Homo sapiens: one gene and its partner. The protein of the gene in region 1 interacts with the protein of each later gene in a pairwise test. Each region holds a gene or a part of one and is shown on either strand. Other genes may lie near its edges.

Evidence for each region.
Region 2: the proteins of ZNF44 (region 1) and UPF2 interact in a two-hybrid assay, tested with the Homo sapiens proteins (one large-scale study listed by BioGRID).

Annotation. Positions count from the first base shown.
Region 1 is NC_000019.10:12,271,242-12,274,854, forward strand, and holds the end of ZNF44 (zinc finger protein 44), read right to left. Parts: intron 2,825-3,613; exon of another isoform or gene 2,823-2,824; coding exon 1,166-2,822; 3' UTR 567-1,165; downstream 1-566. UniProt on the Homo sapiens protein: May be involved in transcriptional regulation.
Region 2 is NC_000010.11:12,035,985-12,039,809, forward strand, and holds part of UPF2 (regulator of nonsense transcripts 2), read right to left. Parts: intron 1-3,825. UniProt on the Homo sapiens protein: Involved in nonsense-mediated decay (NMD) of mRNAs containing premature stop codons by associating with the nuclear exon junction complex (EJC).

The DNA of each region.
Region 1 (3,613 bases):
AAATATGCTAATGAACACTAAGGTTTTTTTAGGGATTCAAAGAAAAAGAACTAGCTTCCTAAAACAATGCTTCTAACTAAATATCTGCAAATATGAAGACATACCCTTCAACACAAACATCTTCAGCCCTCAAGCTGAACAGATGCTGACATTAGTATTAGCCTCCTGCAAAGAGTCAACATCTTCAATCAGAACCTGGGTCTTCCAACATAGATGAAGGTCTTGATGTCCTGTCAAGATTCAAGTTAGCCTGAGGTCTCACTGTTTATCTATGATGCCACACATCTAGTCACCTCTACACATCACATTAGGCACCATACAGCAATCATCATTGTCATAACCATCGTAATACTTGGGTTATCAAGAGAGAAGAACCAGAATTGTGGTTGGTGTTAACACATTCTTTCAGGTCATTAGACAAAAGTAATCTGAGTATTGAAACAAGAAACTGTAACATTATAGGTGATATATACGATGTAGATAGGCCTGCAATGGTTGGGTCTGTACTGAACACATATAGATTTTTTTTCTTATGATTCCCTAAACAATACAACTATGTACACAGCTTTTACAATGCATGAGATATTTTAATTAATCTAGACATTTATAGAGTATACAGGAGAATGTGGGTAGGTACATGCGAATATTCCATTTTATAAAAGAGCTGGCATCTGTGGATTTAGGTATACTCAGGGTGTACTGGAACCAATCTTCTTGCATATAGCAGGCAGCAACTCTATTTGAAAGAAATGGAAACTTTTTTTTTTTTTTTTGAGATGGAGTCTCGCTCTAGCACCCAAGCTGGAGTGCAGTAGTGCAATCTCGGCTCACTGCAACCTCCACCTCCCGGGTTCAAGGGATTCTCCTGCCTCAGCCTCCTGAGTAGCTAGGACTACAGGTGTGAGCAACTATGCCTGGCTATTTTTTTTTTTTTCCGTATTTTTAGTAGAGACAGGGTTTCCCATGTTAGCCAGGCTGGTCTCGATCTCCTGGCCTCGTGATCTGCCCTCCTCGGCCTCTCAAAGTGCTGGGATTACAGGTGTGAGCCGCTGCGCCCAGCCTGGAAACTTCTTAAGGCTTTACCACGTTTACATTCACAGGATTTATTTCTTTCAAGTATCTGAATGTGATAAAACCAATGAATGCTTTCCCACATTCCATACACTTATAGAATATCCTTCCAGTGTGTCCTTTTATGTCTATTAAAGGAACTGAGAGAACTGAAGGCTTTCCCACATTCCTTACATTCATAGGGCTTCTCTCCAGTGTGAGTTCTTTCATGTTCTCGACAGAAACTGGAACGACTGAAGGCTTTACCACAGTGTTTACATTCATAGGGTCTTTCTCCAGTGTGAGTCCTTTCATGTCTTAGAAGGAAAGAGGGCCAAAAGAATGCTTTCCTGCATTGCTTACATTCATATGGCTTCTCTGCCGTGTGAGTCCTTTCATGAGTTTTTAAGTAACTGAAACGACTGAAGGCTTTGCCACAAATTTGACACTCATAAGATTTTTCTTCACTGTGAGTCCTTTCATGGCGACAAAAGTATTTAAAAGAACTAAATGCTTTCCCACACTCCTTACATTCATAAGGCTCCTCTTCACTGTGTGTTGTTTCATGACTTTGAAAGGAAAATAAATCACTAAAAGCTTTTCCACATTTACATTTATAGGGTTGCTCTCCAGTGTGTGTTGTTTCATGTTTTCGAAGGGAACTGGAAGTACGGAAGGCTTTCCCACATTGCTTGCATTCATAGGGTTTCTCTCCAGTGTGAGTCCTTTCATGTCTTTGAAATACACTAGGAGAATCAAAGGCTTTCCCACATACTGTGCATTTATGAGGGCCATCTCCAGTGTGTGCCATCATGTGTCTTCGAAAGCTTGAGCGATGAGATAACAATTTCCCACATTGCTTACATTCATAGGGTTTCTCTAGAGTGTGAGTTCCTTCATGAATTCGTGCTGAACCAGGAAAATCAAAGCCTTTCCCACATATCTTACATTTATGAGGTCCATCTCCACTGTGCATTATCATGTGTCTTTGAAAGCTTCCAAGATGACAAAACGCTTTCCCACACTGTTTACATGTATAGGGTTTCTCTCCAGTGTGAATTCTTTCATGTACTCGAAGGGAACCGGAAACACTGAAGGCTTTCCCACATTGTTTACATTTGTAGGGTTTCTCTCCAGTGTGAGTTCTTTCATGTCTTAGATATGAACTGTAATCAGGGAAGGCTTTAGAACACTGCTTACATTCATACGGTTTCTCCCCAGTGTGTATTTTTTCATGTCTTAGATAGGAACTGTAAACAGGGAAGGCTTTAGAACACTGCTTACATTCATATGGTTTCTCTCCAGTGTGAGTTCTTTCATGCATACGTAATAAACTGGGCCAAAAAAAGGCTTTCCCACACAATTCACATTTATAAGGTCCATCTCCACCTTTTACTACCATATGTCTTCGAAGGTTTCCAGGAGAACTGAAGGTTTTTCCACATTCCTTACAATCATAGGGTTTCTTTCCAGTGTGAGGCCTTTCACATGTTTGAAAGGAGTGGCGATAACTTAAGCCTTTCCCACACTGCTTATGTGTATATGACTTCTCTGCATATTCATGACACTCCCGGTGTTTGTGTCCAGTATCAACTCTGATGTAGCAATTCAGGGATGAATGACCCATTATGACTTCTCCATTCACACTGCTTCCACATGCATCTACTCTGGCGGGAGTGTTCTTGTTTACAATACTATTTCGAATCTGGCTTAAGGTTTCTCCACACTGACTACCATCTTTACTTTTACCAAATCTCTCTACCACATCACACCTGTAAAAAATGAAAAGTACATTACTAAAGGTTTATTATTGAATTTATATTTATCAACAGGTATTAGATTTACATTTTTAACATTATCAGGCAAGCTATAAGCTTCATGTCCTGCTTCAATGTGAATGGACTGAATGTTGTGCAAGATAACTCAATCCCAGCTATTTTCAAGACAATGATATGCACATGGGGATTCTTAATTCTTTTTTTTTTTTTTTTTTTTTTTTGAGATGGAGTCTCCCTCTGTCATCAGGCTGGAGTGCAGCTGGTGCTGTCTCGGCTTGCTGCAACCTCCGCCTCCCAGGTTCAAGTGATTCTCCTGCCTCAGCCTCCCAAGTAGCTGGGACTACAGGCATGCACCACCACACCCAGCTAATTTTTGTGTATTTTTAGTAGAGATGGGGTTTCACCATGTTGGCCAGGTTGGTCTCGATCTCCTGACCTCGTGGATCCACCCACCTCGGCCTCCCAAAGTGCTGGGATTACAGGCATAAGCCACTGCGCCTGGCCTTTTTTTTTTTTTTAAGACAGGGTCTTGCTCTGTCACTTAGGTTAGAGTGCACCAGTGCCATCACAGATCACTGCAGCCTCAAACTCCCAGGCTCAAGTGATCCTCCTGTCTCAGCCTCCCAAAGTGCTGGGATTGCGGGCATGAGCTACCACACCCAGCCTCATATGGGAAATCTTAATATTGTTTCCATGGGAACTACTTTGCAAACACTGAATAGCTATGTCACATTTAATAATATATTTATGTCACATTTAATAATATATTTTTATAGAGAAATTTT
Region 2 (3,825 bases), on another chromosome or scaffold:
CTAACCTTATCATCAAACTTTCAGATACAAAAACTGTTAACTATCTCAAATTAAACTAGACTTTTAACTTCTTCATCTGTATTAGTTAAAGTTAATTTATAAATAAACATGAACCTAAAATCCGTATGTTCTGTGCTATATCTGTCAATACAGAGTAGCTATTAGCCCAGGGTTTCTAAAGTTCAGCACCATTGACAGTTTGGGCAAAATACTCCTTTGGTTTTAGAGGAAAGGGGTCACCATGTGCTCTGTAGGAGGTTTAGCAGTGTCCCTGCCTGCTATGCAGTGCATACAAGTAGCTCCTCCCTCATTTTGACAACCAAATATAACTCCAGACATTGCTAAATATCCGTCGGAGAAAAAATTATCACCCAAAAACTGCTGCACTAGTCATATGTGGTTACTTAAATGTAAATTAATTAAAATTAAATAAAATTTGAAATTCAGTTCTTCAGTCAGTATCTGTATTTCAAGTGCTCAATTCCACATGTGACTAATGGCTTCCATACACAGCAGGGCAGATACAGAACATTTCCACAGAAAGTTCTATTGGATAGCATTGGCCTATAGTACAGGCTTATAGTTAACTGAAAGTAACTGTGGAACAAAAAACTATACTTTGCAGGAAAATTCTGAATTTTTCTTTTCTAAAAATATATTTCTCTACTCAGAACTAGTTGTCTAATTTCTTTTAGGCATGGTGTTTCACGTTTTAACTCCTAAATTATCTAAGAGTTGTATATAAGAAAATCAAAATTCGGCCAAGCACAGTGGCTCATGCCTATAATCTCAGCACTTTGGAAGGCCAAGGCAGGCAGATTACCTGAAGTCGAGAGTTCGAGACCAACCTGACTAACATGGAGAAATCTCGTCTCTACTAAAAATATAAAATTAGACGGGTATGGTGGCGCATGCCTGTAATCCCAGCTACTCGGGAGGCTGAGGCAGGAGAATGGCTTGAACCCGGGAAGCGGAGGTTGTAATGAGCCAAGATCACGCCATTGGACTCCAGCCTGGGCAACAAGGACAAAACTCCGCCTCAAGAAAAAAAAGAAAATCAAAATTCTATTTTAGAGGTAGAAAATTACCTAAATTTCTTAGTTTTATGTTTTCTTTTTGAAACAGGGTCTCACTTTGTCGCCCAGGCTGGAGTGCAGTGGCACAATCACAGCTCACTGAAGTCTCGACCTCGCAGGCTCAAGTGACCCACCTGCCTCAGCCCCCCAAGTAGCTGGAACAGTAGGTGCTCAACACCACATCCAGGTAATTGTATTTTTAGTAGAGATGGGATTTCCCCATGTTGACTAGGCTGGTCTCGAAATCCTGAGTTTAAGTGATCCATCCACCTGGGCCTCCCAAAGTGCTGGGATTACAGGTATGAGCCACTGTGTTTTTGAGCTTTAGTGTTTTTGTTTTTCTTTTTTTTTTTTTTTTTGAGTCTCGCTCTGTTGCCTAGGCTGGAGTGCAGTGGTGTGATCTCGGCTCACTGCAACCTCCACCTTCCGGGTTTAAGTGAACCTCCCACCTCAGCCTCCCAAGTACCTGAGATTATAAGTGTGTGCCATCACACTCAGCTAATTTTTGTATTTTTAGTAAAGATGGGTTTCACCATATTGGCCAGGCTGCTTGAATTCTTGACCTCAAGTGATCCATCTGACTTGGCCTCCCAAAGTGCAGGATTACAAGCATGAGCCACAGTGCCCGGCCAGCCCTTCGTTTTTTTTTATTAAAAGCAATAGTATCCTTAAATATTTTCAAATATAGGTTTTAAATTACAGCACTTAAAACTAGGTTACCAAAAAAAGCATTTGTAATATTGATATTTTTTAAATACAAAAATACTTTACTTCAGTACTCTATTAAAATGTTAATTTCACAGAAAGCAACCTAGACCAACAGAAACACTTTAATTTTTGCAGGTACATGCCACAGCCTGTACCTTCTCATAACTACCTTTTTCCTTCTCCTTTTTCTTTTACTCCCTCATTGCTCTCCACTCCCTTGTTCTATGCATTTATTTTGACAGTGACACCTAATAGCTGTAGTTAACCCCACTGGTAAAACTCACAACAACAACAAAAAAGCTATTGGGCCTATTTTTAAAATCGTCATTAGGGGCTGGGTGCGGTGGCTCATGCCTGTAATCCCAGCAATTTGGGAGGCCAAGGTGGGCGGATCACCTGAAGTCAGGAGTTTGAGTCCAGCCTGGCCAACATGGTGAAACCCCATCTCTACTGAAAATACAAAAATTAGCTGGGCGTGGTAGCAGGCGCCTGTAATCCCAGCTACTGGGGAGGCTGAGGCAGAACTGCTTGAACCCAGAAAGCAGAGGTTGCAGTGAGCCAAGATCATGCCACTGCACTCCAGCATGGGCGACAGAGTGAGACTCCATCTCACACACACACACACACACACACACACACACACACACACACAAATTACCTTTAATATATGAAAAAGCAGGCTGGGCACCATGGCTCACTCCTGTAATCCCAGCACTTTGGGAAGCCAAGGCAGGCAGATCACTTGAGGTCATGAGTTCAAGACCAGCCTGGCCAACATGTGGAAGCCCCGTCTCTACTAAATATACAAAAATTAAACAGGCATGGTGGAGGGTGCCTGTAATCCCAGCTACTCGGGAGGCTGAAGCAAGAGAATCGCTTGAACCCGGGAGGCGGAGGCTGCAGTAAGCCGAGATAGCGCCACTGCACTCCAGTCTGGGCAAAAGACGGAGACTCCGTCTCAAAAATACAAAAAAAAACAACAACAACAACAAAAGAAAAAGCATTTCTATGCCAAGACAACATTAGCATTTATATTATCTATTTTTTTAATTTAAAAAAAAACTGTTTTAATAAAATAGAGACAAGGTCTCAGTACGTTGCCCTGGCTGGTCTCACACTCCCGGGCTCAAGGGATCCATCCTCCCGCCTCGGCCTTCCAAAGTGCTAGGATTACAGGTATAAGCCACTATACCCGGGCAGCATTTCTATTATCTAGAAGTGTAGTTATTGATTCTTATACATTTTCAATTAAATATCCAACTTTAATGTGAAAACATCACGCCCTTAAAGCAAGCAAACTTTCAAAAAGACTATAATACTAATACACTACTCATGGTACCATACTAAACATTTTACGTATATTATCTCATTTAATACTAAAATCTTTATGAGGTGGGTATTATTTTCCCTATTTTATAAATGAGTAAACTGAGACTTGACCAAGTAACTTGACCAAGGCCTGCACAGCTGGTGACAGAATGGGAATCTGAACCCATTCTCTGAACCAAAGAATCCTAAGAGTACCAAATTGTGAGATGGGAGACATGCTGGTAAATACTGACTATAGCAACCCACAGAATTATGAATCTCAAGAGTAGAAAGAATCCTTCATAATGGTTAAGGAGTTCTCATGTAATGTTTTTAACTTTTAGCAGACTCTGGCTGAAACATATGGGGACAATTTAATATCTAAGGTAATAACATGATCTTATTGAAGGATATTAATCATTAAGTGAAAAAAGTTTATATAGATTTCACATTTTCTGATGTGACGCATCAACAAGTAACATTTCAGGACCACAGGACACTACAAAGAATGGCATCAGAACTTACAATTATGTCTCTCTCTCTCTCTTTTTTTTTTTTTTTTTGAGATGGAGTCTCACTCTGTCGCCAGGCTGGAGTGCAGTGGCACGATCTCGGCTCACCACAACCTCTGCCACCCGGGTTCAAGTCATTCTCCTGCCTCAGCCTCCCGAGTAGCTGGGATTACAGGCATGTGCCACCATGCCCGGCTAATTTTGTATTTTTAGTAGAGATG